Regions from separate parts of the Homo sapiens genome. Here region 1 is linked to region 2. Evidence: fine-mapped QTL for protein levels in blood plasma. Region 2 holds a variant in brackets. A gene starts in the other region. All regions are shown on their forward strands.

Region 1 (5,381 bases), not on the chromosome of region 2:
ATAACAAACCTGCACGTTGTGCACATGTACCCTAAAACTTAAAGTATAATAAAAAAAAGGAAAGAAAACAGGAGATATTGGAGATCTCAGGCAGCCATCACAAATGTTTTCTATTTATTAGGAAGAGACACTCTTAACCAGAGACGCTGAAGAGCCAAAGACAGGAGAACTCACCAAACTGTCCACTGACAGGAGCTGCAAAAAAATAAGAGCCAGAGATGAGCACAGAACCATGATTATTTTGTTTTAAGAAGATAATTCCCTTTTTTACCCATGCATGTATTACTTGTCCCTTTAAAAAATTCATTTAAAAACTCTAATAATTATTCATCAAATGTATATATATACACATAAATATACATATATATACATATATATATGGCATGGTATTTGGACTTCTACAATGAATTTTAAAAATGGTATCTGCCATCAAGAAGTTGACTAGTGGAAAAACAGAAACACGATTTAAAATAATATAACACAGGGTGTAAGTGCAATAACAGAAATACACATGGGGTATGTTGGGGGCAGAAGGGCCACTAGCCCAGTGTGTAGGATATATGTGTGTGTGTAGAGTGTGTGTTTGTGTGTACATGTGTTGAACAGGATGGGTGGATCCTTGAAGGTACCTGAAGGAGATGATACTTCACAAAACTGTGAGTGAGAACATGAGTCTGCAGGTGGATGTTAGCATTTGTGTGTGGTAAGAGGCGATTTCTACCTTTCAAGGTAGAAAGGGCACAGAAGTGGAGAAATGACATTGGTGCTCAGGAACTGGGAGTGTTGGGGGAAATAAGACCAGAGAAGCATGCAGGGCCTGAGTAAGTGGTTCTAATTTTATTATAAAAGTGATAAGGAGTCATGGAATGGTTTCAAGGAGGAGATTGACAAGGTTAGAATTTCAGACTTTGATGGAGCACTCTGTCAGTGGACAGAATTTAATGGGACAATATGAAGCAGGGAGACTGATTAGAAGGCAGGGCAAGGAAATGGACATGAATTAAGCCTCCCTTGGGCACCAGACTCCAGGCTATACTCTTTTCATGAGATCATTGAATCCAAGGGCTCATTATCATCATGCCTAATTTTTAAACAATCAACTGATGCTCAGATTATTTAGACCTGATGCTCAGCCCAAGAGATGGTAATGTGTAATTTTTGTCAGAGTATTTATCCAAATTATCTTCATTATCTGCTTGTTTATTTTCCCTTCTCTATAATGCAAGCTCTATGAGACCTAGGACTTTCCTTATGTTCACCATATATCCTCCAGGACCTATAACGGTGAATGGCATATAAAAGATATTCCTTTAATGTTCACTAAATATATTTGTGTTGTATAATGAATTAATTAAAGAACTAGGTTAATAATATAGGAATAGAAGGATAGAGATTTGAGAAATGGGTAATGAAGAGAGAGAGGACACAAAACTGGCAGGTTTATCAATTGAGTAGGTATTCTGCATATGGGTTGATTTATTTATTCAACAGATTTTTGGAATGCCAATCATACTCCAGAGCAAGGCAATAGAAATCCAGGAGTGTGTGAGAGACAAATCATCCCTGTCCACATGAGGCTATTGGAGACTTATCCAAACTTAAGTGTTTTACTGAGAACAACAAATTATTCACCATTCACCTGAATATTTTGGCTTCCTTCATCTTTGCATTGTTTTAAATGAAGCTAATATTTTTGTGAGTGGTTTCTATATGGTCTGCATTTACGTAGGTTATTTCATATAACCATGTCAATAATCCTGTGAGGTAAGCACTAGGATTAACTGCATTTTGTAGACCAGGAATCTGGTAGCCAGTAGGTGGCAAGATGAAGTTTGAACCTAGATCCTGTTTGACCCCAGAGCCCATGTTATAAACTTTGCCCTCTCATGCTCAGGACCTGGCCATTACCCACATTGTGTGGGGCCACACTGAGATGTATTCCTACTTCAGGAATTATAGTCCATGCACCTTCCAACTGTGAGGTCCTCTTTTCTTATATCACGCCTGCTCCATTTCTGCTCCTCTAGCTCCTACTCACCTCTAAGTTTCATGAAGTCTTTACTAGCTATTTTGAATACAGTTTATTATCTGCCTACAGCATTCATTGGTAACTTTGCCTGGACAATTATTTAACTGGGAGCTTGTTGCATAGCTGCTTGAAAGTACATTGGCCTTGCTGGGAGCCCTTCTATGTCATGACTTTCCAGAACATAGACGTAGTGTCTCCTATGGACTCTAATTGCTCAGCACCTGTGCATAGATATTACTAAACACATTTGCTGAACAAATAAATAAACATATTTAATTATAATATTTAACCTTTAGTAAAAATCAACCAGTTCGCACATATGAGTTGATAGAGACTTACGTACACCCACAGGGACAAAGAGAAAGTCATATGCTTTAGATTTATCCTTGCTTTGTCCACCTACGCCTCTGCGACCTCCTCCACCCCATGTTCTTAATCAGCCAATTGCTGCAGTGGTTTGCAATTATGTACAAGAGAAAGACCTGTCTTTCCCGTTAGAAACCTTGCCTCTTATGCTGGGGACCAGGATCTGGCCTTGTCATACAAGGAATAAATACATCTCCTCTGCAGAGAGGAGAGTGGGCTCTTCTATGAGTAAGACAATATGAACAAACAAACATGAAACATTCTCTGGACTTTAAGAAGTACTTTTTAAAGAAAAAAATAAATGAAATTTTAATTGTTGTGGTTATTGTGGTTTCCTACTCTGTAAGATTGAAAATTCCTTCCAGCTGTGGCCATTTTCTTCAGCCTCAAGAGAAAGCCCTGAGCTACAGAGTAAAGTTCAAAAATACAGTCTCCTAATGTAGGAGAGAGTCTCTCAGCAGGGGCTGAGCCCCAAGAAAGGACCAGGCCTGCGGTGGAGAGAGAAGCTGTCCCGATCCCACCCAGGGCCCATGGTGAGCCCTTTTACTCACCCAGGACCAGTAATATCACCCACAGCAGCATGAAGACCTGGACCACCAAGGGCTGAGATCAAAAGAGAAGTTTCCTCAATTCCAAAACAGGTTTGGACTTGATCTTACAGTCAGGACACTGCACACCAGCTCCAAGGAGCACATCTGAGAAGCTGTGCTCTCAAAAAGAGCAGAATGCATTAGTGAATTGAAAAAAGGAAGTGGGAGTACCCGTCTTCAGCTGCTAATCACAGTTTCCTACCCGATGATCAAAGAAAAAAAAAAGTTAAGGTTTTAAAAAATCAAATACCCTTGACCCTACATTTTTGCTATTGGGAAATTACCCTGAAGGAAGTATCTGAAGAGAGTACTATAAGAACGTTTATTGTAGCATTCATTATTGCCTAAACACTGGAAACAAAACAAAAAACCATGATATGGGGACTGTTTAAGAATATTCTGATTCATCCGTATGGTGACAAGCAATCATTAAAGAATAAGGTAAATCTGAACATGCCAAGAAGGGAAGACCACCTTGTTTGATGTGAAGAGAATAAAAGTGAGATATAGATTGGTTTTGTAGTATTATCCCATTGGGTAAATATAAAAAATAGGATATATGTGTACATCAACTCTTTTAAGTATACTTTCTTCTTTTCCTGGAAAGTACACACAAAAATATTGATTATGTTTGAGGAGCAATAGGTGGGAAGAACACAATTTATTTTATGTATTTCTGTACCGTTTGATTTTTTAAAAAATTACCAGGTGAATGTATAGCTCTTATGATTTTCTAAAAGTCAAGTTTCCATCCTGGTATACTGGTCAACAGAGGTTCCTAAGACATTAGCTGCCACGAGGAGTGCCAGTTTCTTTCTTTCAAATATTTTCTCACCCTTTCTCTCTGGGCCCATACCTTGGTCTTCCTAAGGGGGCATTTAATTTTATATCTACAAATGCACATCACCTTAGGTATATTATGTCACATCTGACCCACTGCACCCTGAGGCAAGAAAACCATACAGGGGTTACAGGGGTGAATAGAGATTAAGAGGAGAACTTCAAAGGGAACACAGAATCTTTACCTACTTTTGGTGCTAAAACAAATAGTGCTGCTATGAACATTCTTGTATACATTTATTGGGGCATATGCGCACATAATTCTGTTGGGTATATATCTGGGAGTGGAAGTCCTGGCTCATAAGGTATGCATATATTCAGTTTAGGAAGTATTACCAAATTATTTTCCAAAGTGGTTGTGCCAATTCCCACCACACCCACCAACCAATGTATGAGAGTTATCATTGTTCTAAAATTCTTGCTGATATTGGTATTGTCATCTAGTAAAATCTGGCCGTTCTGCTAGAATTATCTCAATGTGGTTTTAATTTGTATGTCTCTGGTGAATTTGAGAATGAGCATTTTTTCATAGTCTAATTGGTGATGTAGATATCCTTTTTATGTGCAATCTCTGTTCAAATATTTCCTCATTTTTCTCTTAACTTTCAGTCTTTCTTTTCCTGTTTTGTAGTTATTTTAAACCCTGAATATAAACCTTTTGTTGGATATATGTATTGCAAATGTCTTCCTTCAATCTGTGGCTTGCTTCTTTGCTCATTGATAGTGCCTTTTGATGAACAACCATTCTAACTTTGACATAGTCCAGTTTATCAGTCTTCTCCTTTGTGGTTAGAGATTTTTGCATCCCTTCTAAGAAAGTTAGTCTACTCCAAGATCATAAAGATACTCTCCCAGGTTATCTTCTAGAAACTTTATTTTTTACCATTTATTTTATATTTATAAGAGCATTGCAATTGATTTTTGTGTACAGTTTGAGTGTTTATATTCACTTTTAACTTAAATACAGATAATTTATCCTGCCCTATTTATTGAAAGTTGATTTTTTCCACAGTACAGTGCAATTTCACCTTTGTTATAAAACAAAAAGCCATGTAGGTCTATTTTTGGAAACTCCTTTCTTGTCCATTAGTCTATTTTGTCTATCCTCATGCCAATACCACACTCTTCTAATTATTGTGGCTTTATAATAACTCTTATTAACTGATAGTTTAAGTCATAAAATGCTGTTCTTCTTCAAAATTGTTATGGCTATTTTTGGCTTTTTGAATTTTTCTATACATTTAAAAATCACCTTGTCAATTCCTGTCCCCTCTCTCCCCAAAAGCCTAGTAGATTTTTAATAACTGGGATTGCATTGGATTTATAAGTTAATTTGTATAAATTAGAAAAGATTTAGTCTCCCAATCCATAAACATACAATATCCCCTCATTTATTTAGGTTAACTTGACATTCTTTCAGTAATTTTCTATAGCTTTGCCTCTGGAAAGTATATCTTTTGGTAGGTTTATCCTTAGGTTATTGATATGTTTTTTATGATATTGTAAGTGACATCATTAGATTTTTTTCTAAATGTATATTGGTATATAGAAATATA
Region 2 (5,381 bases):
TGAGAGCTCAGATTAAAACTATCATGACAAGTGGCTGGAATCAGGATATATTTTGGGGAAAGGACCAACAATACATAGATAAAATGGACAGTATTTAGAGTTTCAGATTTTCTTTCTACCAAAGGATCCCTTTCTAAAAAAAAAAAAGAGTACAAAAGATCAATTTTAAAAACTGACCAAAGAAACACCACCACAAGATTATTTGTGTGATTGAAGCTGGGGTTGAGCCTGGGTACCTTGTGTTTTCAACACCCCTAAAACCCCGGCTGTTCCAGAGGCACCTACAGAGCCCCTTGGGTTCAGACGAGCAGAACTTGAAACCATGGATCGGAAGGAATAGAAATCTGCATATCTTTCACACAAGCCGTAACATTCTAAGCCGCATATTTGCAGGACGCTGACGTGGGGCTACTTCACCCACAGCCAGCAAGCGTCTGCGCCAGTTCTGGGATTTGTGTCCACCTTGTTGTAAGAAGGCAGCTGCTTGCGTGAGGCATGGCGGTGAGGAAACAATGCCACCCGGATCTCACCATTGGCCGTGTGGACTGGCTGTACCATGGGCCAGACGCATGTCTTGGGCAGACACTTTTTAGATGCCAACTTGCCTGTAGACAAAGATGACGCAGAGGTGGCCTCGAGGACGGCCTGTGTGATGGGTTGAATTTGTCCCCCGAAATTCCTGTGTTGATGTCCTAAGCCCCAGTGCTTGAGAATGTGATCTTATTTACAGATATCATCTTATAGAAATAAGTTAAAATGAAAAATGAGGTCAGTAGGGGGGCCCCCAATCTAACTACTGGTGTCGTTATTATAAGAAAAGGAAATGTGGACAGAGACACACAGAGGGAAGACGAGGTGAAGAGACACCGGGAAGGCCACCTACCTGCCAGGAGAGAGGCCTGGAACAGAGCCTTCCCGCACCGCCCTGAAAAGGGACCTTCCCTGCCGACACCTTGATCTTGGACCTACAGCCTGCAGGACTGTGAGACAGTGAGATTCTGTTGCTGAAGCTGCCCAGTCTGTGGTACTTTAAGGAAGCCCAAGCAAACCAATGCAGCGTGGTAGCCCACAGCTGGTGAAAAGATGGAATGAGCGACGGAGCCCCAGGCTTCCTGTCTACACCTCCCAAAGTGCGCTACGGGATCCTTTGGTGGGTGCAGGTTTGCAAGATAATTTTAGGAGGTGCAGGGTGCATAATTTCAATGTACATTATTATGGATTTATCTTACTGTGAAAATGCTTCTAAGAATAGTTTACTTAAGGTTTACATGCTACTCAAGATATAGCTTTAAATGCTAACAAAAAGTGGACTCAAATGAAAACATTCTCTTGCTGTGGTCCAGGGAATCTTGATGTTTTTTCCAGAGAGACTCGCAGCTTTCAGCTACAGCTGCCCTCCCCTTCCTGTCCACTGCACATCCCCACAACACACACACATATACATACATACATGCACAGACATCCACACGCACACACATATACGTACATGCACACGCATACATGCACACACATATGCATGCACACACCTGCACACACACACACACACACACACACACACACTGTGCGTCATGCCCTTACTAAGGAGGCATGGAAGGGAATGTGTGTCTGTAAGGAAATGAAGATGGCTCAAGCCCCTGGTTCCCTGGGTGTTTGCACAGGCACCCTCCCTGCAGACCTTTCTTTGGTCTCTTTCTCTCTCTTAGTGAAAGAGAGAAGCAGAGCCCCAGTGGGTACCCGGCTGCTTAGGGCTCAACCCAAGGTCACAAGCTTCCTCGAGAGCCTGGTGAGATGGGGGCACCACAGGGCCTCCCAAACCAAGGGGGCAGCGTTCAGTGGAGCCTGATGCCCAGGAAAGTGATAGACAAGATGTCTCAGTTCATCAAAGACCCAACCACAATGCAGTGAGGAAGGGCAGCTGCCAAAGGTTTTATTCTCCAGGAGGAGGGGCTCTCGGGGGCTGTGAGCAGCAGGCACGAGGACTTTATTGCACGTGTGGTTAGGTGATGACGACCTACAGCTGCACTGGGAACTGGGACTCAGAGTGCCCCGACCTCCTGCTCTATCTCTCTCTGTCCCTCTCTCCCTCTCTGTCTCTCTGCCTCTCTCCCTCTCTGCCTCTCTCCCTCTCTGCCTCTCTCCTTCTCTGCCTGTCTCTTTCCTTCTCTGCCTCTTTCCCTCTCTGCCTCTCTTCCCCTCTGTCTCTCTCTCCCTCTGTCTCTCTCTCCCTCTCTGTCTCCTCTGTTTCTCTCCCTCTCTGCCTCCTCTGTCTCTCTCTCCTCATATCTCTCTCCCCTCTCCCCACCTCTCTTTCTCTCTCCCCTCCTCTCCATCTCTCTCCCTCCTCCTTTCCCTCCCTGACCCCCATTTATGCACCTGGGCCCCCCTCCTGGGCAGGCACACACACAATGCCAAGGCCACTGTCTGGGATGTGTGGGCAAGGCTGCAGGACTGTGGTCCTGGTGTGGCACCCCCACCTTCCAGCACAAGTGGGGTCG[G/A]GGGTCCCAGGCGTGACTGCGCTCTCCTGCGTGGGCGCCCTGCACTCAGGGAAGCAGAAGCTGCAGGTCTCCACTGGCTCGGGGGATGTGCTCACAGGGCTGCCGGCTTCCATCGCGTGATCTGCAGAGGCGAGAGTGGAGGGCGTGGGCCAGGCCTGGCCCTGCACTAGGGTAGGGGTGACGGTGTGGGCAGCCGCACTCTCCCCCGACCCAGGAGCTAAGGGCAATCACCAGCGTAGAACGCCCCCAGACAGGTGTCAGTGTCCGCCAGTTGCTGACCAGAACCTGTGCCGGGGCAGGGGTGGGCAGGCAATTCTTGGCTCTCACTTCTGTCCAGCACCGAGCCTGCCACGCCCCCCAAGGGGACACCTCCTCCTGGGCTTAGCCCTGAAGGCTCTGCATCTGGAGAATCCTGGGCCCAGGCAAACCTGAAGACCGGCACCCCACACCCACCCTTCCCGGGTGCCACTCTCCCAGTTATCTGTCTGCCAGGATGTCTTAACCTGATTTTATCAAGGTATAGCAAGTAACAGGGATGAGCCCTGGGCCTCTCCACCTAGAAGCAGGGGCAGTGACAGGACCGAGGGATGGCCCGAGGCTTGTCACCCAAGCAGCGAGAAGGGCGAGGACCCCAGTTTCATGCACTCACCCTGGGAAGACTTGGCCGGACTTTGACGGGGCCTTGAGCGGGGCTGGCAGGAGCAGGGATCCCCCCTCTTCTTGAGGAAGCAGGCCACCGCCACCAGGAAGCAGCAGAGGACGGCACACAGGCAGAGCCCCAGCGTGCTGTAGACCAGGGCCACCTGATCTGCACTCAGCTTCAGCCCCGGGAGAGCTGCAAGACAGCATGAGACCCCTCTCTGCAGTGCCTTCTTCTCTTCCCGTCATTAGGCTCAAGCAATCCACATCCCCCCATCCCCCTGCTGTGAGCCTGTCTGGCTCCTGGAGAGGCTGGGCTCCTTTTCTGACCCTGAGGCTGCTGGGATGCTCTCTGGATCCTGGAGGAAGTTGATCCACTCCCCCATCCTGGCAGCAACTTTCTAAGGCCTCAAAGCTGGAAACGTGAGCTAGGCCTTCTTGTTGTCTCCACTTGCTAGGGCTGTAATTGGGACAGCGCTGGAGATGGGCTGATGGGTGAATCGACAGACGAACAGACGATGCTCCAGGGAGCATGTCTCTGTGCATCCTGAACTGGGCCCTTCCTCCAAGGAGAAAGCTTCCTGAGTGAGCGTTTACAGTCGTCCCTTGGTATCCATGGGGGACTGGTTCCAGGATCCCCTACAGATACCAAAATCCGCGGATGTCCAAGTGCCTGATACAAGACGGCCTGGCATTTGCATATAACCTATGCACATCCTCCTATACAATTAGAGTCATCTCTAGATTACTTATAATACCAAATACAATATAGATGCCATGTAGAAGGGTGTTATACTGTATTGTTTAGGGATAACAATGAGAAAAAATGGCTGCAGAGGTTCAGTACAGATGCAACTATCCCCTATCTTTTCTGAGTATTTTCCAGCTGCTGTTGGTTGAATCCACAGACATGGGTCGCACGACACAGAGGGCCCACTGTGTTTGAGAGTAGGACAGGCGACGTTACACTGAGACCAGGACAGCAGGTGCCAACCAGGAGGGCTTTGGGCATCAGGGCACCTGGCCACCCTATGACTCAGGACTTGTGCCTCCAGGTTTGGATGCCAGAGACAGACTCAGCCCAGGTGAAAGCCCTCCCCTTGGAAGTTCTCCTTATCCCAAAAGCTCTTCCTTGTCCCTGGAGCTGGGCATCCTCTAGGCGCTGGGTGGAAAGACAGATGAGCCAGATTTAAGATGACACGTCAAGAAGAGCGAGTCCCACTTCGTGCCGGGCACTTCCCCTACAGCACCCCCTTCATCTTCCCGCTCTGATGGCAGACAACTACCCCCATTAAAAATACTGAGAATTTGTATACCATCAAATTTGCTGTATTAAAGTGTACAACCAGTGGCTTTTAGCACATCACAAGGTTGTGCAGCAATGGCAACTGTCTAATTGGAGACAATTTTTATCACCAAACAGAAACCCTGTCTCATCAGCAGTCACTCCCCATTCCCTCTTCCCAGCCCCTGGCAACTGTTCATCTCTTTTCTGTCTCTGTGGATTTGCCTATTCCAGACATTTCATATTAATGAAATCATACAACACGTGGTCTTTTATGCCTGGCTCCTTGCACTTGGCTTTGAGTTTTCAAGGTCCACCATGTCCTGCCGTGCTGTGTATTAGACCTTCGTTTCTCTTTAGGCGGAATGGACAGACCACATCTGTTTACGCATTCAACAGGGAATGGGCATTTGGGTTGCTTCCACTTTCTGGCTATTGTGAATGACGTTGCTGTGAACATTCACATCCACATGTTTGTGTGGATGGATGTTTTCCATTTTCTTGGGTGTATACCTAGGAGAAGAATGGCTGGGTCACATAATAGCTCTGTTTTGTTTTTTGAGGACCTGCTGGACTGCGTTGCACAGCATCTGCCGTTCACACTCCATTTTACAGATGACAAAACTGAGTGTCTAAGATATTGTTCTCGGTCTTAGACCTGCACCCGGGAGCCGGTCTCACCAATTCCCAGGCCGGTGCTCCAAGCCCGCGGGCCACACAGCGGCCCCAGGGCTGGCACTGCCCGTCTTCCTCACACACGCTTTTAGATTCAGGAATCTCATAAAGTGACAGAGCTGCCAGGACTCTTAGGGGTCATCAGTGTCACTCTGACATTTACAGGGGGGAGATGGGAACTTGGGGTGAGTTCGTGTCACTCCGCCAGTCAGTGGCTGTCCTTCTGTCCAGTGCCCAGAGCTCAGAGAGGCCTAACGGAGGAAAGCAAAGACCCCAGGACCTGCAAA

Alleles and levels. Alleles are on the strand shown, and positions count from the first base shown. The strength of an association depends on the size of the effect and on how common the allele is.
With allele G in place of A in region 2, the plasma level of the protein whose gene starts at base 3,130 in region 1 is lower (moderate association).

What was found. PIP is the posterior inclusion probability: the model's chance that the variant is causal. The UK Biobank Pharma Proteomics Project read protein levels with antibody pairs (Olink). The fine-mapping took linkage between variants from a reference panel, not from the people measured, so its PIPs are less certain.
Region 1: it holds the start of FCRL5, and the variant in region 2 is fine-mapped to the plasma level of the FCRL5 protein (UK Biobank, PIP above 0.99).

Annotation. Positions count from the first base shown.
Region 1 is chr1:157,549,386-157,554,766 of GRCh38, forward strand. It overlaps FCRL5 (Fc receptor like 5), which reads right to left and starts at 3,130. Exons shown (of 17, transcript NM_031281.3): 1 at 2,947-3,130; 2 at 175-195. The coding sequence starts at 2,977.
Region 2 is chr17:16,937,182-16,942,562 of GRCh38, forward strand. TNFRSF13B (TNF receptor superfamily member 13B) reads right to left here. Exons shown (of 5, transcript NM_012452.3): 4 at 3,145-3,330; 5 at 1,900-2,616. The coding sequence ends at 2,366. Among named protein-coding and RNA genes, the nearest start is that of TNFRSF13B, 32 kb to the right of the region's middle. RefSeq lists enhancers at 1-499, 1,297-2,137 and silencers at 1,923-1,972, 1,983-2,032. The variant G/A (reference allele first, on the strand shown) is at 2,496.